Homo sapiens: one gene and its partners. The protein of the gene in region 1 purifies or fractionates together with the protein of each later gene. This does not show direct contact. Each region holds a gene or a part of one and is shown in the gene's direction. Other genes may lie near its edges. The genes, in order: TRIOBP, SKAP2, MCMBP, DYRK2, RDH13, CIZ1 and UACA.

What was found.
Region 2: the proteins of TRIOBP (region 1) and SKAP2 purify together in Homo sapiens (affinity purification with mass spectrometry; one large-scale study listed by BioGRID and IntAct). This does not show direct contact.
Region 3: the proteins of TRIOBP (region 1) and MCMBP purify together in Homo sapiens (affinity purification with mass spectrometry; one large-scale study listed by BioGRID and IntAct). This does not show direct contact.
Region 4: the proteins of TRIOBP (region 1) and DYRK2 purify together in Homo sapiens (affinity purification with western blotting; one study listed by BioGRID). This does not show direct contact.
Region 5: the proteins of TRIOBP (region 1) and RDH13 purify together in Homo sapiens (affinity purification with mass spectrometry; one large-scale study listed by BioGRID and IntAct). This does not show direct contact.
Region 6: the proteins of TRIOBP (region 1) and CIZ1 purify together in Homo sapiens (affinity purification with mass spectrometry; one large-scale study listed by BioGRID and IntAct). This does not show direct contact.
Region 7: the proteins of TRIOBP (region 1) and UACA purify together in Homo sapiens (affinity purification with mass spectrometry; one large-scale study listed by BioGRID and IntAct). This does not show direct contact.

Annotation. Positions count from the first base shown.
Region 1 is NC_000022.11:37,703,548-37,707,047, forward strand, and holds part of TRIOBP (TRIO and F-actin-binding protein), read left to right. Parts: intron 1-3,500.
Region 2 is NC_000007.14:26,739,091-26,742,590, reverse strand, and holds part of SKAP2 (src kinase-associated phosphoprotein 2), read left to right. Parts: intron 1-219; exon of another isoform or gene 220-249; intron 250-2,626; coding exon 2,627-2,704; intron 2,705-3,500. UniProt on the Homo sapiens protein: May be involved in B-cell and macrophage adhesion processes. In B-cells, may act by coupling the B-cell receptor (BCR) to integrin activation. May play a role in src signaling pathway.
Region 3 is NC_000010.11:119,866,344-119,869,843, reverse strand, and holds part of MCMBP (mini-chromosome maintenance complex-binding protein), read left to right. Parts: intron 1-3,500. UniProt on the Homo sapiens protein: Associated component of the MCM complex that acts as a regulator of DNA replication.
Region 4 is NC_000012.12:67,651,745-67,655,244, forward strand, and holds part of DYRK2 (dual specificity tyrosine-phosphorylation-regulated kinase 2), read left to right. Parts: intron 1-3,500. UniProt on the Homo sapiens protein: Serine/threonine-protein kinase involved in the regulation of the mitotic cell cycle, cell proliferation, apoptosis, organization of the cytoskeleton and neurite outgrowth. Functions in part via its role in ubiquitin-dependent proteasomal protein degradation.
Region 5 is NC_000019.10:55,053,149-55,056,648, reverse strand, and holds part of RDH13 (retinol dehydrogenase 13 isoform 1 precursor), read left to right. Parts: intron 1-3,500. UniProt on the Homo sapiens protein: Retinol dehydrogenase with a clear preference for NADP. Oxidizes all-trans-retinol, but seems to reduce all-trans-retinal with much higher efficiency. Has no activity toward steroids.
Region 6 is NC_000009.12:128,171,073-128,174,572, reverse strand, and holds part of CIZ1 (cip1-interacting zinc finger protein), read left to right. Parts: intron 1-3,500. UniProt on the Homo sapiens protein: May regulate the subcellular localization of CIP/WAF1.
Region 7 is NC_000015.10:70,659,059-70,662,558, reverse strand, and holds part of UACA (uveal autoantigen with coiled-coil domains and ankyrin repeats), read left to right. Parts: intron 1-2,342; coding exon 2,343-2,408; intron 2,409-3,500. UniProt on the Homo sapiens protein: Regulates APAF1 expression and plays an important role in the regulation of stress-induced apoptosis. Promotes apoptosis by regulating three pathways, apoptosome up-regulation, LGALS3/galectin-3 down-regulation and NF-kappa-B inactivation.

The DNA of each region.
Region 1 (3,500 bases):
AGGCTGGAGTACAGTGGTGCGATCTGGGCTCACTGCAAGCTCGGCCTCCCAGGTTTATGCCATTCTCCTGCCTCAGCCTCATGAGTAGCTGGGACAACAGGCACCCGGCACCACGCCCAGCTAATTTTTTGTCTTTTTAGTAGAGACAGGGTTTCACCATGTTAGCCAGGATGGCCTCGATCTTCCTGACCTCGTTATTCGCCCACCTCGACCTCCCAAAGTGCTGGGATTACAGGCATGAGCCACCGCGCCCAGCTTCTACCAGTCTTGATACCTCCAATAATAGCTCTCTTGTGCTCACCTGCAAGTTCAGGTTCAGGGAACAGATGCCTGGGAGTCCATCTTTCATGCAAATGACTTTCTTCCAGTGGTTGGGAAGATGGCAAGAATGGAACAGGAGAGCCGTGGATTCAGGCTCGTCTGAGTTCTAGTCTCAATCCCACCATTTCCCACCCGAGACCGTGGGTCAGCTCACAAATTCATACGTACTGAATAGGTGCTTAAAATGTGCCAGGCATTATGCTAGATGATGGGGAAATCATGATAAATCAGAAAGGCACAGCCAGGCACAGTGACTCACTCCTGTAATCCCAGCACTTTGGGAGGCCAAGGTGGGTGGATCACTTGGAGTTTGAGACCATCCTGGCAACATGGCAAAACCCCATCTCTACAAAAAATTTAAAAAATTAGCTGGGCGTAGTGGGATGCGGCTATAGTCTCAGTTACTCAGGAGGCTGAGGTGGGAGAATCACCTGAGACTGGGAGGCGGGGGCTTCAGTGAGCCGTGATCGCATTACTGTATTTCAGCCTGGGTGACAGAGTTGGACCCTGACTCAGAACAGAACAGAACAGAACAGAACAGAACAGAACAGAACAGAACAGAACAGAACAGTACAGAAAACAGGGAGAAGGAGGGGAAGGGGGAGGGGAAGGGGGAGGGGGAGAGAGAGGAGGAGAGGAGGAGAGAGGGACACATCCCTGGCTTGTCTTCATGGGGCTTATATTCTAGCAAGAGAAATGCACATGATTATTTAATCTTGGTTGTGATAAATGTATAAAGGAACAGTAAGTGGCATGAAGGTAAAGGATAGGGCATTAGGGAAAGTTTCTCCAAAAAAAAAAAAATGACATTTCAGCTGCTTAGTAAAGGCTGTGCAGGCATTAGCATTAGTGAAATTGCAGGAAGAGGAGAGGAAGGAAGGAGAATGTGCAAAGGCCAGCCTGGCACGGCAGCTCACGCCTGTAATCCCAGCACTTTGGGAGGAAGTGCTTGGATTGAGGCACCGAAGCAGGAAGATCACTTGAACTCAGGAGTTTGAGACCAGCCTGGGCAGCACAGTGAGACCCCATTTCTACCAAAAAAAAAAAAAAAAAAATTAGCCAGGCAGGATGGTGCACACCTGTAGTCCCAGCTAGTCAGAAGGCTGATGTGGGAGGATTACTGGATCCCAGGAGTTCAAGGTTGCAGTGAGCCATGAGCATGCCAATGCACTCCAGCCTGGGCAACAGAATGAGACCTTGTCTCAAAAACAAAACAAACAAACAGGTCAGGTGCAGTGGTTCATGCCTGTAATCTCAGCACTTTACGAGGCCGAGACGGGTGGATCACCTGAGGTCAGGAGTTCAAGACCACCCTGGCCAACATGGTGAAACCCCATCTCTATTAAAAATACACAAATTAGCTACATGTGGTGGTGGGTGCCTGTAATCCCAGGTACTTAGGAGGCTGAGGCAGGAGAATCTCTTGAACCCAGGAGGCAGAGGTTGCAGTGAGCCAAGATTGCACCACTGTACTCCAGCCTGGGCAACAGAGCGAGAATCCTCTCAAAACAAAACAAACAAACAAAGAATATGCAAAGGCCCTGAGGCAGAAAGGAGGCTGCACATCGGGCTGGAGAGGACAGGCAAGAGGGGGGCACAGAGGAGCTATAGGACAAGGATGGAGAATGGGGGGAGGCCTGGTCTCACTGGCCTTGTGCGGCTTTGTGGACATGTTGAGGACTTAGGATTCTGAGGTTTTTTTCTGTTTTGTTTTTGTTTTTTTTTGAGATGGAGTCTCGCTCTGTCGCACAGGCTGGAGTGCAGAGGCGTGATCTCGGCTCACTGCAACCTCTGCCTCCCAGGTTCAAGCGATTCTCCTGCCTCAGCCTCCCAGGTAGCTGAGACTACAGGCATGTACTACCAAACCCAGTTAATTTTTGTATTTTTAGTAGAGATGGGGTTTCACCATGCCGCTCAGGCTGGTCTTGAACTCCTGGCCTCAAGCAATCTGCCCTCCTTGGCCTCCCAAAGTGCTGAGATTACAAGTGTGAGCCACCTCGCCCGGCCAAGCCACGGAAGATTTCAAATAAGGGAGTGACGTGCTCTGATTTGCATTTTTCACAGTCACTCTGATTGCTGGGCAGAGAGAATGGAGGGCAGGGTGGTGAGAGTGAATCAGGTGACCCGCCAGGAAAAGGTGCACGTACTCATCGGTGCCAGAGATGATTGGGGCTTTGAGATGGAGGCAAATGGACACATTTCCGAACTAATTGAGCAGGCACGTCTACAGGATTTGGGGGTGAGGGAGGGGAGAAACCCATGGCTGACTCCTGTAATTTCTTCAGGCAGGGTACTTGGGTTGGGAGGTCTGTTTGGAGTTGTCTGGGGCATGGTGTGGGGTGTCGGCAGGATACAGTGGAGATGAGGGGGAAGTTAGTGAATTGGTGGGGCTGGAGCTCAGAGCCAGACCATCACAGGAGATGGAGGCCTGCGAGTCTTCAGGATCTGTCACTGACCAAAGTCTTGCTCACGGATGAGCCTATCATCTGTGGAAGAAAGTGTGGAATGAGATGAGAACAGGCCTGGGTGGAGGCCAGGGAATCAGCAGAGACAGCCAAGAAGGCCAGAGGCTAGGAGGCAAACCCCACAGTGTGCCCCTCCTCCCCAGGAGCCAAGACCAGAGATGGTTTCAAGAGAGGGGGCCAGGCACAATGGCTCCCGCCTGTGATCACAGCACTTTAGGAGGCTGAGGCTAAAGGATGGCTTGAAACCAGGAGTTTAAGACCAGCCTAGTTAACAAAGTGAGATCCCATCTCTACAAAACAAAAAATGAACTGGGTGTAGTGGTGCATGCCTGCAGTCCCAGCTACTTGGGAGGCTGAGGCAGGAGGATTGTTTGAGCCCAGGAGATTGAGGCTGCAGTGCACTGTGATCATGCCACTGCCACAGCAAGACTATCTTAAAAAAAAAAAAAAAAGATCAGAGAGGGGCACGACATCAAATCCTCCACTTTCTTGAGCTTCCAGTTGCTCTGATGATGATCAAGGCTGTGAAACTCTCCTTTGGCAAATGCATGAGGGGTGACTGTTGTGTCTCCGAGCCAGGCCCTGGGACCCAACTCTGGGCAGGTAGCAGCTCCCTGTGTATACCAGATGTGATAGTAAAAAACTGACACTGGGCCGGGCGCGGTGGCTCACGCCTGTAATCCCAGCACTTTGGGAGGCCGAGGCGGGTGGATC
Region 2 (3,500 bases), on another chromosome or scaffold:
CATGAATTTAGAATTCAGAACAAGTATTGCTTATGACATCAAATTTTATTGTGATGTATCAGGTGGAAATTTAGTCAACACTTTTCTTAAAGCAAAAGACTCAGGCTATGTGTATATTGAACGCTAGTAAATTCTAATTTCCCTTCTCCTTTTCCTTTTCCCCCACTTCCTCTCCCCTCTCCCTTCTTCCCATCTCTCTCTGTCTCCTTTTTGACCAGTAACATTTTAGAGTTGAAAGCTATGCTAAAGGTACCCATTTCTTTTCAGAATAATTTAACTTTTCTTAAGATTTTGTGAGCATCCATTCCTTATGTAAAGAGCATTTATTATGCCCAATGGAAGTGAGAGGGTTGTGGGACTACCCCTTAATGAGACCAGATCATTCCACAATTATCCACTTTAGATTAGTGGTTCACCAGGACTTGTTTACAGAGATAAGATTTCTGTTTGTAATTTTTGTTTTATGTACAAAATCCTATAATAAATAATTTATACCTTTATATGTACCAAGTTTATTTTGAAAAAAACTGGATACATTTATTGAACAGCTATTAAAATATGTACACTGACTTTCCCTAAAATTTCATATACATTTCAAAATCAGGGCTCTATTTTAAATATGTTTTAATGATACTGTGTGGTGTTTACTGGGTGAAGTTGATCCACCAAGGAGCTGAAATTAGTGCTCTAATTTTAAGCTTTATTTCTTAAGAAAAAATATCCATGACTTTATCACTACTGTGATCCCCATGGTATTAAAAAAAAAAACTGGTAAAATTAGGTGATGAGTTTGTAAATAATAAACTTCCTATCAAACCCATTCTTTTTTTTAATTTTTAATTTTTGTGGGTACACAATAGGCAAATTTATGGGCATATTGTATGTTTTGATACAGGCATACAATGCATGATAATCACATCAGGATAAATGAGGTATCCATCACCTCAACCATTTATTCTTTCTCTGTTACAAAGAATCCAATTATATTTGTTTAGTTATTTCATTTTATTAATTTATTTATTTATTTATTTATTTATTTATTTATTTATTTAGAGACAGGGTCTCACTCTATTACCCAGGCTGGAGCGCAGTGGCACAATCATGGCTCACTGCAGCCTTGACCTCTTGGGGGATCCTCCCACCTCAGACCCCCTTCCCCCCACCTCTACCCTCCTCCTCCACTGGCTGGGACTGCAGGCGCGTATACCACTACACCCAGTTATTTTTAAATTTTTCGTAGAGATGGGGGTCTCACTGTGTTACCCAAGCTGGTGTCAAACTCCTGGGCTCAAGCGACCCTCCTTCCTTAGCCTCCCAAAGTGCTGGGATTGTAGGCATGAGCCATTGCACCCGGCCACTTAGTTATTTTTAAATGTACAATAAATTATTGTTGACTATAGTCACTCTGTTGTGCTATCAAATACTAGATCTTATTCATTCTAATTACATGTTTGTACTCAAACACATTTTCTATCCTAAGTTGTACTGAAACTATTTCCACTGGATGTATTCCATACAAACTTTCTTTTGATTGGTTGTTTTCACTTGCTAGAGTTCTAGTAAAATGCTGAGGATAACTATTATATTTCTTTTCTTTTCTGTTTTCGTTTTTTTCTCTTTTTTTTCCCAGGCTGGATTGCAATGGCGTGATCTTGGCTCACTGCAACCTCTGCCTCCTGGGTTCGAGTGATTCTCCTGCGTCAGCTCCCAAGTAGCTGGGATTACAGGCACCCGCCACCATGCCTGGCTAATTTCTTTTGTAGTTTTAGTAGAGACCAGGTTTCACTGTGTTGGCCAGGCTGGTCTCGAACTCCTGTCCTCAAGTGATCCACCCGCCTCGGCCTCCAAAAGTGCTGGGATTACAAGCGTGAGCCACTGCGCCCGGCAGATAACTATTATATTTCTAATGAAGTTTATAAAAATATTGAACACTTGTAAAATTGAGTAACCTATAATCCATGACCGTGAATATACAATTTCTAATCAACTTAACTTTTGCTTGATTTAAAAACTTTTTTTAGGGATCCAGTATTTGTTTATAATAGTTTTATCAGATCTGTCTAGTTTTAGACTCTTAAATGCCCTATAAAAACCTAAAGCATACTCACTCAGTGGAATGTCCATAACATTTCTCTGAATACAAACACAGAGAATATTTGCTGTGGGCTCAGAGAAACAAGTTTCAGCATTTGATTCGGAAAAGCATTTTATGTTTTACTTGGTAGGAATAGGGATTATGCAGGAAAGAGTCAATATGTATTGAAATTTTTAAAGAGTTAATTCAATATAAATATAACGAAGCTATGATTTATTTGAAATTCTTAACCTCTCTTTCAGGGATTTATTGCATTTATTTATAATAGTTTCTCAGTCCTGTATTTTGGGAGGCTATAATAACATATAGGAGTACAGAACTTTTTTTTTTTTTTTTTTTTTTTTACTTTTGAGACTTTTAGGAGGAATAGAGGGGATTAATCTAGGGAATGGATCTGAAACAAAGCTAATAGACTTAGATTTAAACAATTTCAGTAATTAAAAGCACACTGAATCTAATGAGATCTGGCACTTGTTTATTCTGAAATGGATTACCCACTGCTTTTTTTTTTCTCTCCCCAACTTCTCATAGGAGCCCAGTTTCCTCCAATTGCAGCACAAGACCTTCCTTTTGTTCTAAAGGCTGGCTACCTTGAAAAACGCAGAAAAGGTAAACTGAAGGTTCTAATGAAAAATGTAAAAATAATTTCATCCTTAGATAGAACATGTTTGTAGTATACATGTGGAGGCAGTATTCGTTTTAGGTGATTAAAGAGTTTAAAGATTGTAAGAAAATCTGGATGACATTATCCAAACCACAAAATATAGCTCTTAGCTTTAAATAATTTTTAATAAGAAAACATTAGGTTAGGTTTTTAGTTGTCAACCTTGGTTATTTGTAAATGATTCAGGAGCTGTTTCCTGCCTCTCAAAGGAAAGCTGCAGGCCATGACTGTATTCTCAAAGGTGGGATTTCTCACCAGTATCTCAATGGGCTGAGCAGCAGGTTCTCCTATGCCCAAACTGGCATGCACCATGGTTCAGATCAAGCCTGGAGTTTTGTCTGCCATTGTCTATTATTCATTTCAGTGTTCCTCTCCATTGGCTATGATAATTGGGAGTTGACCATATGGTCTCACTCTTTCAACACCAATATTTAATGGAAATGAAATATGGAGGTGGTTTTATAATATGAGAAATGAAAAGCAGACAGTCTTTTCATTACCATTCTGCTTATCTCTCTTGTAGTCCCTTTAGGCCTTTCTATTTATATTTCATTTTGCTTTTCTTAGCTTTCTTAGCTGAATTTTAAAACTGAAAGAGATAACAGAAATAATCTAGGTTAGCTCCTCCCCTTCTTTTTATAACAGATGAGAAAATGAGACCCAGATGGATCAATTATCTCAAGACTGTATAGTCAGATACCTTTTTGACTGTCCCTGTCAGAAAACTTTGTTAGCCATGCT
Region 3 (3,500 bases), on another chromosome or scaffold:
TAGTTTTTTTGGATAACCAGCTACTCACTGACTCTCTTTCAGGATCTGAATTTGGTCACTGTATCTTATCCGTTCTAGGGGTTTTGTTTTTGTTTTTGCTTTTTTTGTTTTTGAGATGGAGTTTCGTTCTTGTCACCCAGGCTGGAGTGCAACAGTGTGATCTCGGCTCACTGCAACCTCCTCCTCCCAGGTTCAAGCAATTCTGCCTCAGCCTCTGGAGTAGCTGGGATTACAAGTGCCTGCCACCATGCCCAGCTAATTTTTTTTTTTTTGAGACTGAGTCTTGCTCTGTCACTCAGGCTAGGGCGCAGTGTTACAATCTTGGCTCACTGCAGCCTCTGCCTCTTGGGTTCAAGTGATTCTCCTGCCTCAGCCCCCTGAGTAGCTGGGATTACAGGTGCATGCCACCATGCCCAGCTAATTTTTGTATTTTTAGTAAAGACAGGGTTTCACCATGTTGGCCAGGCTGGTCTTGAACTCCTGACCTAGTGATCCGCCCACCTTGGCCTCCCAAAGTGCTGGGATTGTAGGCGTGAGCCACCACACCGAGCCGCTAATTTTTGTATTTTTAGTAGAGACAGGATTTCACCATGTTAGCAAGGCTGGTCTCGAACAGGTGATCTGCCTGCCTCGGCCTCTCAAAGTGCTGGGATTATAGGCGTGAGCCACCGCGCCCGACCCAGACCCTCATCTCCAATGCTACTGTCAAAATTAAAGCCATCGTAGTCTCTTTCCTGGACGCTGGAACAGCCCTCTAACTGGTTTCTTGCCTCCAGTCTTGCTTCTCTTCCACCTGCCATACTGGAACCAAGTCCTTCAGTGACTTCTTGTTACCCTTACTATCTGATCCAGGACTTTTAAAGTGGTTTATGAGGCCCTTGTTGGCTCCACCCTTGCCTTGCTCTGAGACTTTATCACTGCGTACCCCCTCCTCATACTCCATCCCAGCCGCACTGAACCTTTTTTCAGTTCTTTAATTTTGAACCTGTGTCTAGGCCTTTTTGCATCTGCTGATTTCTTGTGCCTGATTCCCCCTCCCATCCCATGTCCACTTTTCTGGCTAAGTCTTACTTTTCCTTTGGGAACTTAAGTTAGGTACCAAAGTAGGGTACCCCTGCTCCATGTTACTGCAGGATCCTATTATATATGTCTTTGAAAAATAGTGTGTAAAGTGCATTGTTGAAATTCCTTGTTTCGGAAGTTCCTTTGCTGGATTTTGACCCCGCGAATTCAGGGCCCCTGTATCTGCATTATTCACCACTGTATCCTAATTTCTTAGAATTTGCCTTGTACATTGAAAGTGCTCAGTGGACACTTGTTGAACAAAAGCAGTGAAAAGACTGATTAATCAGAAATGTTGTTAATTGAAATGGCTAGTGAGATCACAAATCTCAAAATTTTTCTTTTCTTTTTTTCTGGAGTCAGTGTCTTGCTCTGTTGCCCAGGGTGGAGTGCAGTGGCGTGATCTCGGCTCACTGCAACCTCCGCCTTCTGGGTTCAAGCCATTCTCATGCCTCAGCCTCTCGAGTAGCTGGGATTAAAAGTGTGCACCACCATGCCTGGCTAATTTTTCTATTTTTAATAGAGACAGGGTTTTGCCATGTTGGCCAGGCTGGTCTTGAACTCCTGGCCTCAAGTGATCTGCCCCCACTTGGCCTCCCAGAGTGCTGAGATCTCAGGTGTGAGCTGCTGCGCCCAGCCTCTTTAGCTGTTTTCCCTTCAACTATTGGTTAGACCAAGATCATTATTCTCGTTATATTTAAGCTTCTTTGGTTGTATCTAACAGAACTAGACTAGCTCATGCAAAAAAGAGCAGGGTTGGGTGAAGAGGGGCAGAGCAGACTATTTTATCACTAGCATTTTAGAGAATTTAAAGCAATAATAAAATGAACTAAAAGTTAGTTGGTCTGCTTTTTATTATCACCATGAATCTAAACAGACAATCTGTGCCCTTATTGTCTGTACCCAGCTTGGACCTCTTCTACCACTCTGTCCTTGGTAGGCCACTGAAAAAAGTTAATTTATATTAAGGCTATAAAACCCAAGAACAGGGGAAGTGGTTGGGTATTCGAAGAGACTGAGTGGAATCAGGAACTGGAAAGCTAGCAGGAATCCAAGCAACTCAGTATTTCTTCTCTTGGGATACATTAATCTCTGCACACTTTCTCTTTCTCTACTCCATGTCTCCCAAATTTACTTGTTCTCGGTTCCAACCCACGCTAGCTAGCATCTTTATTTTCAGGCATAGAAAATCTGATTGGCACAACATGGAGTCAGGAATCCATTCACTCAGGGATCAGTCATCTGTGGCCATGGCACAGAGTTAGGTAGGACAATCGTGACTGTTATCCACACCTCAACATTGGGGGCGTTCTCAAAGAAGAAGAATAGCTCCGGCAGCCATGGCAGATGGCATACGTAGGAGTTTTTAAGTTATAATAACTTACACATGGTTTTAAAAAAAATCAACATGATGGTATGAACTGAGTGAAAGTACGTGCTCCCTCCATTGAAGTAACCACTTTTTTTTTTTTTTTTTTTTTTTTTTTTTGAGATGGAGTCTCGCTCTGTCGCCCAGGCTGGAGGGCAGTGGTGCGATTTCGGCTCACTGCAACCTCTCCCTCCCAGGTTCAAGCGATTCTCATGCCTCAGCCTCTTGAGTAGCTGGGACTACAGGCGACCACCACCACACCTGGCTAATTTTTGCATTTTTAGTAGAGTCGGGGCTTCACCGTGTTGGCCAGGATGGTCTCGACCTCCTCTGCCCTCGTGATCCACCACCCTCGGCCTCCCAAAGTGCTGGGATTAGAGGCATGAGCCACCGTGCCCTGCCTGAAGTAACCGCTTTTAACTGTTTTTGCTTTTAGAGGTTTTTTTCTTTGAGACAGAGTCTCGCTCTGTCACCCAGGCTAGAGTGCAGTGGCACGATCTCTGCTCACTGCAACCTCTACCTCCCAGGTTCAAGCAGTTCTACTGCCTCAGCCTCCCGAGTAGTTGGGACTACAGGCGCCTGCCACCACACCCAGCTAACTTTTTGTATTTTCGTAGAGATGGTGTTTCACTATGTTGCTCAGGCTGGTCCAAAAAAATTTTTTTTCTTTGAAATAAAATTCACATAACAAAATTTAACATTTTAAAATGTACAATTGAATTTTTTTTACTGTATTCATAATGATGTTGTGCAACCATCACCACCACTATCTTTTTCTCTTTTTTTTGAGACGGAGTCTCACTCTGTTGCCCAGGCTGGAGTGCAGTGGTGCAAACTTGGCTCACTGCAACCTCTGCTTACCGGGTTCAAGCGATTCTCTTGCCTCAGCCTCCCAAGTAGCTGGGATCACAAGCATGCACCACCATTCCTGGCTAATTTTTGTATTTTTAGTAGAGACGGAGTTTTACCATGTTGGTCAGGCTGCTCTTGAACTCCTGATCTCAGGTGATCCACACGCCTCGGCCTCCCAAAGTGTTGGGATTACAGGCATGAGCCACCACGCCCGGCC
Region 4 (3,500 bases), on another chromosome or scaffold:
ACCACAGAGTTTATCTGGTTCTATTCTTTCAATTTATAGATGAGGAAACAGACTCAGACAAGGTAACTGGTTTCATCAAGATTCCCCAGCCAGTTCATATCAAGGCCAGAGTGAAAGCCTACATCCTCCTGCATCTAGTTTTAATATACTGATGGAGACTGCTAATTCTAGGAAATTGTACTAGCCTCATTATAAATGCAAGAACCTTTGTAGATCCATATTCCCATATGTCTGTCAGATTTTTATAAATTTTTAGTTATTATTTCCAGAGTAATTACACCTAGGAAGAACTTCTAGAATGAATGGGGGGCGGGAGGGCATTAAGGAGATAAAAATGATCTTGTCATAGGAGCTTGCCCACATTTTCTCTTACAGGTGATATAGTAGGCAGGTTAAATATATGATTATAAAGATTATAAACTTTGGAATTTATCTAGACCATTGCCCTTTTGTTTTATATCTCCATGTATAAGTTGTTTTACACTTTAGTTATTTCTGTTTGTGTGAGAGAGAGAAGTGTGCCCAATCACTGTCTTACTTCCTATTATTTTTCTATTAATGTTAATTGGTAGTTATTAATAGAAGTATTTTTAAATTCAAAAATATTAAAATATGTATAACTTTTGTAACTGTTTTACTATGTAAAACACTCCAGTTATCAGTTTTACCTTTATAAAATAATTCAAATTGAAATACACATTTTAAAAAATGGCAGTATTTTGAAGAAGAAAAAGTAGACATTTTTCTTTCTGACAGGGCCACACAGACTGTCAGAATGTTTGAGGAGGAGCTAAAATTCCAGTCTTTTTGGACTCAATTCTATTACCATAATACTATACAGCATTTCTAAGATGACTTCAGAAAAGTTTTTAAACGCCCAAGACTATTATCACAGTGGAATATCTGCTGTTTGCCATTTTCTTATTGGAAGAAATGAAAACTACCAAACTGGTTAGACTATTGTTTTTATATAATATTTAATACCAAAGTACTTGATGATCAAAGAAGCCTTTGCAGGTCTCTCAATTCGAACCCATAAATTGTAGCTATTTTAACAATTGTATTATGTTTTTATTTTTTGTTTTGTTTTGTTTTGTTTTTTTGAGACGGAGTCTCACTCTGTTGCCCAGGCTGGAGTGCAGTGGCTCCATCTCGGCTCACTGCAACCTCCGCCTCCGGGGTTCAAGCGATTCTCTTGCCTTAGCCACCCAAGTAGCTGGGATTACAGGCACCCGCCACCATGCCTGGCTAATTTTTGTATTTTTAGTAGAGATGGGGTTTCACCATGTTGGCCAGGTTGGTTATGAACTCCTGACCTCAAATGATCCACCTGCCTCAGCCTCCCAAAGTGCTGGGATTACAGGATTGAGCCCCTGTGCCCGGCCTCAGTATGTATTTTTAAATGTGACACACACTGTGCTATACATTGGCATATCGGAATAAGCCATGATCTCAGACTTCAAGAGGCTGAGCTGGAGGGAGAGGTTTTTAGTATCCTTAAGTTTATGATGTAGTCTTGACATACGTATTCTGGAAATGTTCTGGCATTTCTAGTCCCTCAGCACCCCCACCCTGCTCTCTGCCCCATTTTTTATAAGTCAGTTAATTGTGCTTTTGAGCTTGATTGTGATTTTAGAGTCCTGCAATGTTTGAGATTCAAAGTCTTCTTTTGCTAGAGCTTCTCAAATGAATCTCTAACATCTGGAAAGCTTTTAAGATTGCATGTGTTGCTTTTAGGTGTTTGGTTGATGTGTTTGTTGCAAGTGTTTTATACATGGTTTGATTGATGTGTCTGCTACAGGTACTTTATGCTTGGAGGTCCTTGGCCTCCAAGTCTGTGCGGATCCACTGCAAGCCTAACGTCTTGTGACTTAGGTCACCAGGGACGTTTCTTAATTCCCTGGGCCTTGACTTCATGTTTCCTTATGAAGGTACACAATGTAGTTCTCAGGAACAACTCCAAGAGAGGCAAGAGTTAACAAGGAGGATCTATTGGCATGTGTTCTTCCATCCCAAAGATATTTATTGAGGGCTTACTATATGCCTGGGTTTATGTTAATGAGGACTTGGAAACATAAGAGGGGACCCAGCCCTGGAATTGCTCACAGCCAGATGAGTACATCTGATGTTAAAACAATTGCAATAAAGAGAAATAAGTAAAAGGGTGAATCACCTAGGTATGAGAAAGGAGATTACAAGAAATATCTGGAAAGGACAATAATAATGCTCTCATTGACTGACTACTAAGCACTTTACACATATTACCTTATTTAATCCCCCTAAAAGCCCTAATGAGGTAACTTTGTTACCTTCTTTTTGCAGACAAGGGCACTGAGGTTAACAGAGATGAAATAAGTTGCCCTGGGTCACACATTTAGTAAATGGTGGAGCTGGATCATTTAATGTGTGTCTAACTGAAAATCTACCATTATGAAACCTGACCTCACTAAAAGCAGAGGAGTGTAAAAGTGTGTGGTGTTTTTTGGGTCCTGGGCTATCTAGCTTTGTTCTCTTGGAGAGAAGAGTGACAGTAGTTGATGAGAATGGAAGGACTCCGATCATTTAGCCTCTACATTTTAGAGCCTTGTGTTCTTACTGGTAAGTTCTTGCATTAGCTATGGAAATAGGTTACAGCCACAGGCCTTGGGCAAAAGCAAGAGTGGTCTCAGGTTGAGACTTTTAAATCAGACTCTAGAAGCACTATGGAGAAGAGATTTGAGGAATTCTAGACTTAGAAGCAAGGGGGCATGTTACGATGCTGCCTCAGTTGTCCCAGTGAAAGACATCAGGAGAGTGAGATGAGGCAGTGTTGATGGAAAGGGCCTGGGATAGTAATGATGCATCTTCTTGGTGACTTGGGAAGGTGAGGGAGGTGTTGAGATTTTCCAGGCACACAGTGCTGAGGATTCATTCGCAGGTGGATAGCCTGAGTGACACATGGAGGGGAAGCCTTCTTTTTATCAAAAATGGAGGATTATGGAAGTGGGAAACTGGTTTGTTAGAAAAATCATGAGTTAAGTTTGAGTTGCTTATGGGAGAGGGAGCTGATCGATAGTTGGATATGTGTGTCTTCCACTCAGGAGATAGCACCTTGGAAGGTCTGAGCTCAGGGAACAAATGCGCAAACATCAGGCCATGGGCAGTTGCTGAAGCCCTGGCTGTGTTCAGGATCAGTTGCAGGGGGTTATGGGAGTAAGAAGCCAAGAGAATCGAGATTTGAACCCTGGGGAACTCTTGAATCCACCTAAGGTTAGGTAGTAGTTGATGCTGCAAAGGAGACCAAGAGAAGGCAGTTGGAGATATAGAAGATGGTCGTTTCTTGTCAGTCTCGTTAGTTTTAGTTACTAAAACATTTGTGATCATGTATTAAATTATGCGAAACACAAAAATTGCTTGAAGTAAATTTCTGAGGCTTGGTTTTACTTTGCTGTGTTTTTAGAAATCTCTAAAGCCCCAAGGTTAATTTTGTCCTAATGAAGAGCTTTATGCTTTTTATAGCA
Region 5 (3,500 bases), on another chromosome or scaffold:
GAGAACGCTGGCCATGTGGGATGAGGACTGGGATAGGCGGCTCCCAGGGCCAGGCTCTGAGAAGTGAATGAAGCAAGCAAACTTTAGAGCAGAGTTTTGGCAAACTATGAGTTAGGGGCCAAGTCCAGTTGCTGCCTTTTTTTGTACAGCCTGCAAGCAACGACTTTATTTATTTATTACTACTGTTATTTTGAGAGGGAGTCTCACTCTGTCGGCCAGGCTGAGTGCAATGGCGCGATCTCGGCTCACTGTAACCTCTGCCTCCTGGGTTCAAGCGCGGACCTCAGCCTCCTGAGTAGCTGGGATTAAGATGCCTGCTACCATACCCTGCTAATTTTTGTATTTTTAGTAGAGACGGGGTTTCACCACGTTGGCCAGGCTGGTCTGGAACTCCTGACCTCAGGTGATTCTCCTGCCTCAGCCTCCCAGAGTGCTGGGATTACAGGCGTGGGCCACTGCGCCCGGCTGACTTTGTTTTGTTTGTTTGTTTTGAGACAGATGGGGTCTCGCTCTGTTGCCCAGGCTGGAGTGCAGTGGTGTGATCTTGCCTCACTGCAACCTCCGTCTCCCGATTTCAAATGATTCTCCTGCTTCAGCCTCCTGAGTAGCTGGGATTACAGGCACCCGCCACCGTGCCTGGCTAATTTTTTGTGTTTTAGGTAGAGACAGGGTTTCACCATGTTGGTCAGGCTGGTCTCGAACTCCTGACCTCAGGTGATCTGCTTCCCTTGGCCTCCCAAAGTGCTGGGATTACAGGTGTGAGCCACCGTGCCCTACCTGAATAATTAGTTTGTTTGAGACAGGATCCATCTCTGTCACCCAGGCTAGAGTGCAGTGGTGCAGTCATGGCTCACTGCAGTCTCAACCTGCTGGGCTCAAGGGATCCTCCCACTTCAGCCTCCCAAGTAGCTGGGAGTACAGGCATACGCCACCACACACAGCTAATTATTGTTTTATTGTTTTGTTTTGTTTTTAGAGCTGGGGTTTCACCATGTTGCTCAGGCTGGTCTCCAACTCCTGGGCTCAAGTGATCCACCCAGGTCAGCTTCCCACAGTGCTGGGATTACAGGCGTGAGCCACCGCACCTGACCTTATTAAGCATTTATTGATCAAGTGCCTTCCCCACCATGGTTAAAGAAATATGTGTTTGTTATGGGACATTTATAAAATACTGCAATGTAAAGAAGACAGAACTGGCTGGGCACAGTGGCTCACGCCTGTTAATCCCAGCACTTTGGGAGGCTGAGGCAGGTGGATCCCTTGAGGTCAGGAGTTCGAGACCAGCCTGGCCAACATGGTGAAACCCTGTCTCTACTAAAAATACAAAAATTAGCCAGGCGTGGTGGTGCACACCTGTAATCTCAGCTACTCAGGGTGCTGAGGCAGGAGAATTGCTTGAACCCAGGAGGCGGAGGTTGCAGTGAGCTGAGATTGTGCCAGTGCACTCCAGCCTGGGTGACAGAGTGAGACTCTGTCTCAATAAAAAAGAAGACAGAACTAAACAACTTTGATCTGCACCAGCCCCAGGAGAATCACTTTTATGGATCTTTCTAGTCTTGTTTATAATAGGTTTGTGTGTGTATTTATATATTTTTATGTAAAACTGGGACCATCCTCTAGCTTTTCTATTCTTGTTCATCTTTAAATAGACTCAAGAATACACTAAAATTATTTATTGTTTAGTTGACATGTATACTTGTATATATTATGTACAGCATGATGTACATTGTATACATTGTAGAATGGCTAAATCAAGCTAATTAACATATGCATTACCTCAAATACTTACCTGTTTTTGTGGTGACCACATTTAAAATCTCTTCTCTTAGGATTGCTTGAGCTCAGGAGTTAGAGACCAGCCTAGGAAGCATAGTGAGACCTTGTGTGTACCAAAGATTAAAAAAAAAAAAAAATTAGCCGGGCATCCTGGCATGTGCCTACAGTCCCAGCTACTCAGGAGGCTGAGGCAAGAGGATCACTTGAGCCCGAGAGTTCAAGGCTGCAGTGAGCCGTATTTGTGCCACTGCACTCTAACCTGGATGACAGAGCAAGACCTTTTTTTTGAGATGGAGTCTTGCTCTGTCACCCAGGCTGGAGTGCAATGATGCGATCTTGGCTCACTGCAGCCTCCGCCTCCTGGGTTCAAGCGATTCTCCTGCCTCAGCCTCCCAAGACTATAGGCGGGTGCCACCATGCCCGGCTAATTTTTGTATTTTTAGTAGAGACGGGGTTTCACTATGTTGGCCAGGCTGGTCTCGAATTCCTGACCTTGTGATCCGCCTGCCTCAGCCTCCCAAAGTGCTGGGATTACAGGCATGAGCCACCATGCCCAGCTGCTTTGTTTCTTTTCTAGTCTGGCACTGAAAGGGCCAAAGCTTTCTTCTTCAGAGTCAATGTGCCCCGCTCAGTAAACGGGTACTCAGGAAATGAACAAGGAATGGGGGAGTTGTGGGACCTCATTTATTTAGCAGACGTGATCTCAGACCTGACCAGGTGCTGGAGGTGTGAGATGAACCAGAGCTGTCCTTGTGCCACTCACAGCCCTAGGGAGGCAGGTGCAGGTGCACATTCGTTGGTTCATTCATTCATTCATACTGAGCCCCTGCTGTGCCCTTGGGGATCAAGAAAGAGCCGGCACTGTTGTCGGGTAGGTGAGAGGCACTACGGTGAGATCACAAAGAACAGTGAGAGGGCAATGCCTCAGAGTCTCAGAGGTGGATGAACATTTATTAAGCACCTGCTGTGTACCAGGTACAGCACTGTCACCTTCATGCACACTGTCCCAGGCAATCCCACCCAGGGCGCCTCTGATCCTGTCTCTGGCTTGTGGACACAGGTGTCCGGAGCACTGAGGTCCCTGAGACAGTGAGGACCCCGGCTGGACACACCTGGGCAGGTGATGCCTCCTCTCTTAGCCACACGTTCCTCTTCCGGGAAATGGAATAATTCCTTCTATTTTCTGGGATTCTCTAGAGGGGTTTTTTTTTTTTTCTGAGACGGTATCTTGCTTTGTCGCCCAGGCTGGAGGACAGTGGCACATCTCGGCTCACTCCAAGCTCCGCCTCCCGGGTTCATGCCATTCTCCTGCCTCAGCCTCCCGAGTGGCGGGGGACTACAGGCGCCTGCCACCACGCCCGGCTAATTTTTTATATTTTTTACTAGAGACGGGGTTTCACCGTGTTAGCCAGGATGGTCTCGATCTCCTGACCTCATGATCCAGCCACCTCGGCCTCCCAAAGTGCTGGGATTACAGGCATGAGCCACCACGCCCAGCCTCTCTAGAGGATTAAGTAAAGCTGTGTCTGTGACTTTTTTAGCAAATCAAGTACCAGCTTCTTGGTGTTTTCCTAAGATCAACAGCCAGGAATAAAGACAGCAGTGGATTTAAAAATAGTGAAGATCGTCCATTTTATGTGGTGTGTATTCTACCACACTGGGGCAGGCCAGGTGCAGCGGTTCACGCCTGTCATCCCGGCACTTTGGGAGACAGAAGTTTTGGG
Region 6 (3,500 bases), on another chromosome or scaffold:
GTTCTTCGCGGTTGTAAGTGAAAAAAATTCTAATTTCTATAAGACAGAAATTAGCTTGAGCAAAAAGGAACAATGTTTCTGGCTTAGGTTAGTGGGAATATAAGAGATACAGCTGGACCCAGGGGATACCATTTCTTAGAGAGGCTCCATCTCTCACTACAGTGGGCACCAGGTACCCACAGCCCCAGCCTCCCTGCACAGTGACTTCCAAGGAAGGGCAGTCACCTGTGTCTGCGGTAGCAGAACAGTTTCTAGTGGAAATGCTGGTTAATCTGATTGTGGTCACGTGCACGTTTCTGAAGCAATCCCCTGGCCAGGGATAAGGTGTTCTGACTGGCTAGGCCTAGGCAGGCCAGCTCTACCCAAACCACATGGAAATACATTTCCCCATGGAAGGCAGGGGGGTGTTCCCAGGAATGGGGCTGAAGGCTGGATCCCAATACCCTAGCTGGTGGGGGTGCCCGTCTCCTCCCTCCTCAAAGCCCCCAGGGCAGGTGCTGTGAACTAAGCCCTTGCCTACCTTAGCTATTTCTTTGTTTTTTTTTTTTGTTTTTTTGTTTTGTTTTTGAGATGGAGTCTCGCTCTGTCACCCAGGCTGGAGTGCAGTGGCGCGATCTCGGCTCACTGCAAGCTCCGCCTCCTGGGTTCACGCCATTCTCCTGCCTCCGCCTCCCGAGTAGCTGGGACTACAGGCGCCTACCACTAGGCCCGGCTAATTTTTTGTATTTTTAGTAGAGACAGGGTTTCTCTGTGTTAGCCAGGATGGTCTTGATCTCCTGACCTTGTGATCTGCCCGCCTTGGCCTCCCAAAGTGCTGGGATTACAGGTGCAAGCCACCATGCCCGGCCCGCGTTGGCCGTTTCTGGGCAGCCTCAGACGTGACACTGGCACAAGGTGTCTGCCTGTTTGATGACCATGTTCTCTCCCCACCCCCTTTCTTCATTTGTTGTGTTTTTCTCTCACAGAGATCAAAATGCACATTGAAAAATAGAGCCAGGCTGGCATGGTGGCTCACACCTATAATCCCAGCACTTTGGGAGGCTGAGGTGGGGGGATTGCTTGAGTTTAGGAGTTCAAGACCAGCCCGTCATGAGACCTGTGTCTCTGTAAACTATAAAAAAATTAGCCGGCCGGGCGCGGTAGCTCACGCCTGTAATCCCAGCACTTTGGGAGGCTGAGGCGGGTGGATCATGAGGTCAGGAGATCGAGACCATCATGGCTAACACGGTGAAACCCCGTCTCTACTAAAAAATACAAAAAATTAGCCGGGCGTGGTGGCAGGCGCCTGTAGTCCCAGCTACTTGGGAGGCTGAGGCAGGAGAATGGCCTGAACCCAGGAGGCGGAGCTTGCAGTAAGCCAAGATCGCGCCACTGCACTCCAGCCTGGGCGACAGAGCGAGACTCCGTCTCAAAAAAAAAAAAAAAAAAAAAAAAAAAGAAATTAGCCAGGCCTGGTGGCATGCACTTGTAGTCCTGGCTACTTAGGAGGCTGAGGTGGGAGGATTGCTCGAGCCCAGGAGGTAGAGGCTGCAGTAAGCCTTGATCATGCCACTGCACTCCAGCCTGGAGCAAGCTGCTTTAAAGTCTGATTTTGTTGCTTGCAGCAGTATTAAGAAGATTTTACTGAGGACAGTAAATGTCCCTAAATCCTAAAATCTAAAACCTGGTACTCTCACTGTGTGGCTGATGTGCCTTTTTTGACTACAAAAAAATTTTTTTTTCTGATTTTAAAAATAATTCGCTCATTATATAACGTTTTGAAAATACAAGGACACAGACACATGAGAAGATAAAAATCACCCATAATCCCATTACCCAGAGATAAACACTGTTTACATTTTGACCTAGTTCTTCTTGTGATCCTTTCTGGATTTATACAATCTTTAAAAATAAAAATCGGAATCATGCTACATGACAACACGAACACTTTCTGTCTCTAAGCAGCCCTCCCCAGCAGAGCTCTTACAGGGCTTTATCAGTGGACATGTGTCCCCTAAAATTTATGAAAACTTGTGTATTTGCATATTTTATAGAGAGTCCTTATTTTCGCTGAGTGAGACACTTTTTTTGGTTTTTTTTTGAGAGGGAGTCTCGCTCCGTTGCCCAGGCTGGAGTGCAGTGGCGCAATCTTGGCTCACTGCAACCTCCGTCTCCCAGTTCAAGCAATTCTCCCGCCTCAGCCTCCTAAGTAGCTGGGATTACAGGTGCCTGCCACAACGCCTGGATAATTTTTTTGTATTTTTAGTAGAGACAGGGTTTCACCATGTTGGCCAGACTGGTCTTGAACTCCTGACCTCAGTGATCCGCCTGCCTTGGCCTCCCAAAGTGCTGGGATTACAGGCGTGAGCCACCATGCCCAGCCAGGGTTTTACATGTATTTGGCTTTTCTTTTTTCTTTTTTTTTTTTTTTTTTTTTTTTTTTTTTGAGACAGTGTCTCACTCTGTCACCCAGGCTGGAGCGTAGTGGTGTGATCACAGCTCAATGCAGCCTCAGAACTCCTGAGCTCAAGGAACCCTCCTCCCAAAGTGCTGGGATTACAGGCGTGAACCAGCGGTATGCCCAGCCTTGGTTTAAGAAGCTGCCTACATAAAGGATACACTCTGGCCAGTGATAGCACAGCCCTTGTCATTGACATTTGTTTGCTTTTTAATTTTCTTATATCTTTCAACATGTAGAAGTTTTAAATTTTTATGCAATCGGATCTATCAGTTTTTTCCTTTATGATTTCTGGCTTTGATGTTATATGTTGCAATGATCTTTCCCAACCCAAGATTAAATAGTTGCTCTCCCCTTGTAAAATAAGTATTATTTTATTTATTTATTTATTTATTTTCTGAGACGGAGTCTTGCTCTTTTGCCCAGGCTAGAGTGCAGTGGCGCGATCTTGGCTCACTGCAACCTCCGCCTCCTGGGTTCAAGCAATTCTCCTGCCTCAGCCTCCCGAGTAGCTGGGATTACAGGCGCGTGCCACCACACCCGGCTAATTTTTTTTTTTTTTTTGTATTCTTAGTAGAGATGGGGTTTCACCATGTTGGTCAGGCTGGTCTTGAACTCTTGACCTTATGATGTGCCTGCCTTGGCCTCCCAAAGTGCTGGGATTACAGGCGTGAGCCACCGTGCCCGGCCCTATTTTATTTTATTTTTTGAGACCGGGTCTCTCTCTGTCACCCAGGCTGGAGGGCAATGGTGATCTCGGCTCACTGCAACCTTAACCTCCTGGGCTCAAGGAATTCTCCCACCTCAACTTTCCAAGTAACTAGGACTATAGGTGCACACCACCATGCCTGACTAATTTTATTTTATATAGAGACAAGATCTCACTATGTTGCCTAGGCTGGTCTTGGACTTCTAGGCTCAAGCGATCCTCCTGCCTCAGCCTCCCAAAGTGCTGGGATTATAGGCATGAGCCACTGCGACTGGCCCCCTTTTTATTTATTTATTATTTATTTTTGAGACAGCGTCTTGTGTTGCCCCAGCTGGAGTGCAGTGGCAGTCATGG
Region 7 (3,500 bases), on another chromosome or scaffold:
TTGACTTGGCGATGCAGGCTCTTTTTTGGTTCCATATGAACTTTAAAGTAGTTTTTTCCAATTCTGTGAAGAAAGTCATTGGTAGCTTGATGGGGATGGCATTGAATCTATAAATTACCTTGGGCAGTATAGCCATTTTCATGACATTGATTCTTCCTACCCATGAGCATGGAATGTTCTCCCATTTGTTTGTATCCTCTTTTATTTCATTGAGCAGTGGTTTGTAGTTTGCCATGAAGAGGTCCTTCACATCTCTTGTAAGTTGGATTCCTAGGTATTTTATTCTCTTTGAAGCAATCGTGAATGGGAGTTCACTCATGATTTGGCTCTCTGTTTGTCTGTTATTGGTGTATAAGAATGCTTGTGATTTTTGCACATTGATTTTGTACCCTGAGACTTTGCTCAAGTTGCTTATCAGCTTAAGAAGATTTTGGGCTGAGATGATGGGGTTTTCTAGATATACAATGATGTCATCTGCAAACAGGGACAATTTGACTTCCTCTTTTCCTAATTGAATACCTTTTATTTCCTTCTCCTGCCTGATTGCCCTGGCCAGAACTTCCAATACTATGTTGAATAGGAGTGGCGAGAGAGGGCATCCCTGTCTTGTGCCAGTTTTCAAAGGGAATGCTTCCAGTTTTTGCCCATTCAGTATGATATTGGCTGTGGGTTTGTCATAGATAGCTCTTATTATTTTGAGATACGTCCCATCAATACCTAATTTATTGAGAGTTTTTAGCATGAAAAGTTGTTGAATTTTGTCAAAAGATGGGGTCTTCTATGTGGCTTAGGCTTGTCTCCAATGGGGTCTTGCTATAGGCTGATCTCCTGGGCTCAAGTGATCCTACTGCCTCAGCTTCCTGAGTATCTGGGACTATGCTTTTAATTATGCACTAATACACATTGAAATGCTAAGTAAAACGGCCCAGTCACATGTAAATTGTTGCTGATGTTTCCCTATTTCATAGAATTGTTTGAGTTATTTTTTAATAGAAGAAAGGTTTTTTGTTTTGTTTCTTTTTTAGTGTTTATTTTTTAACACTGTAGGCCTACAGATTAAGGATGGCAAATTGTGGATTTGGATCTTATCCAAAGAGTATAGTGTCCCTTTAATAATTGGAAATATTTGTTTATTGTTTATTATGTTCATGACCCTGTGCTAAGTGGGATAAAGAAAGTATGCCATTCCTGTCCCCAAGGAGTTCTGGGTAGTTAGAGAGGCAAAATACAGATTCATAAAAAGTAAAAATCACAAGATGAGAGATGTCAAATGTAGAACTGAGAATGCAGATTCTAAGTGATAGGGGTTTCCAGGAAGGAAAGATTAGTGGTGTGGTAGAAGCTAGTTTTTAAAGAAGGGAGTACCTGGCTTGAACTTGTAACGTAGATGCTATTTTGGTAGGTGAAAGGAAAGTAGAGGCTCTTCCATCTAAAGAAAATAGTGTAAAAGAAGCGTGGAGATGGAATACAAGTGGCATGGCCAGAGGGCAGTAAAAGCCCTGCCTGTAGAGTAGTCCCTCTCTTATCCACTGAGGGTATGTTCCAAGATCCCCAGTGGATGCCTGAAACCATGGATAGGACCTGCTGAATGAACCCTATATAAGCTATGTTTTCCCCCCAGATATACATACCTGTGATAAAGAGTAATTTATAAATTGGGCACAGTAAGAGATTAATAACAACATAATAAAATAGAACAATTATAACAATATGTTGTAATAAAAGTTATGTGAATGTGGTCTCTCTCTATATCTCAAAATATTGTATTATACCATGGGCAACAGAAATAGAGAAAGTGAAACTGCTCATCGCAAAACTGCCAATAAGAGGGGACTGCTGTATTTGAAAGTTAATGTTTGAAGCCAAACTGTGGAAGTCATTGAGAACCAAACTGATGAATTTGGATTCTCTCATGTATGTAAAGAAGTGTCACTCAAGGTTTTTGAGCCAAAAGTGATGTGAGGAAATAGGTACCTTAGTCTCAGAGGCATGGTAAGGAATATAGTGTGGAGATAGTAAGACAGGATGGGAAGCGTTTGCAATAATCCAGACATGTGATAAGTGTCTTCAGAAGTTCATGGCACTAGATATGAACTAAAGCAATAATTTGATGTTGCTTAGGGAAAGTAGCATTACTGTCATTAGCCACACATTCTTTACAGAAGTTTATATTGTTACGTTTTGAAATTCTGCATCTGGTAGGTCCAAGGTAGTTTGTTGTTAGAAGTAGCAGGATCGCCTTAATAATAATAATAGTTTTGTAGCATGAAGCCTGAGCATTGTCCAAAGTTTGGAAATGTGAACGCTGATAGTCACATCTGTCCATCTTTCCACATTTCTAGGATGCTGACAGACAGCACCAAGAAGTAATTGCAATTTATCGGACACACCTTCTTAGTGCTGCACAGGTAAAGAACTACTTCTCCTTTGGAAAGAATATTGCTTTAGAGATAATAATTTTTTATTTTCAAATAAATTTATGTGAAAGTAATTGATGTTTAAAGTAGCTGCACCCCCTATGCTTATTTAAAAATAATTATGTTTCTTTTAATCATTGTTTGTGGATCTCCCAGAAAAATTTACAAAGCTATATGGCAACACAACATCTTAAATTTAGTGTCGTCTCCATCTGCTTGTCACTCAGTTTATAGACAGTTTGGTAACATGTGATGGTAGCACACGTTAATGGTGTTGCTAGCTGGAGATAATGCCTTGACATCCACGTGTGGCTGTCATCTAAGAGGAGAGTGGGAATGGCTTTGAATACTAGAAAAGTACAAAAGTGACAAGCAGGGTGTTATGTGTATAGGATTGTAGTAATTAAAAATGATCTGTTTTACCAAGCCTTAACTTGGCTTGGTAAAGCCAAGGATTAATTAAGGAATAACAGTATGAATTCCCTTTTTTAGGGGTGTACTGAGAAAGTTATTGTTAAAATCATACTAAGAAATTACTAACATATAAAGGATACTATGCTTAATTTCCTGTAGAAACCCCGTGAGCAGCATCTTCAAAATTCTCAGAATAGATTTTTTTTCAGGAAGAAAATGTACTAAAAGAAACAAATTTTAGAATGACAGAGATCCTGGGAATTATTTGGATTTGAAGTATGTTAGGCCACACTGTAAAAACAAGCAAAAAAAAAAAAAAAAAAAAAAAAAAACAAACAAAAAATGAAGAAGGGAAAGATGGATGTTGAGAGAAAGCTTCAAAAAAAGAACAATTTTAAAAAGAGAACTAGATAAAATAATAAAAAGAAAGATACTTTATGATATCAAATTCTTAAAATCAATAGACCTGCCTCTTCTATAGGAAATGGAGGGGAAACTAATGAAAAAGAATGAATGATATGATAGAACAAGGGATCTTAGCTACTCTCTTTTGAGCAAATCAGAGATAAACTAGAATCTTAAAGTTTATTGCAATTATTAGAGAAGATTATTGAGGGACAGTGAATAGGAAGTTCAAGTGGGGAAATAGCAGAAAATCTGTATTAGAGA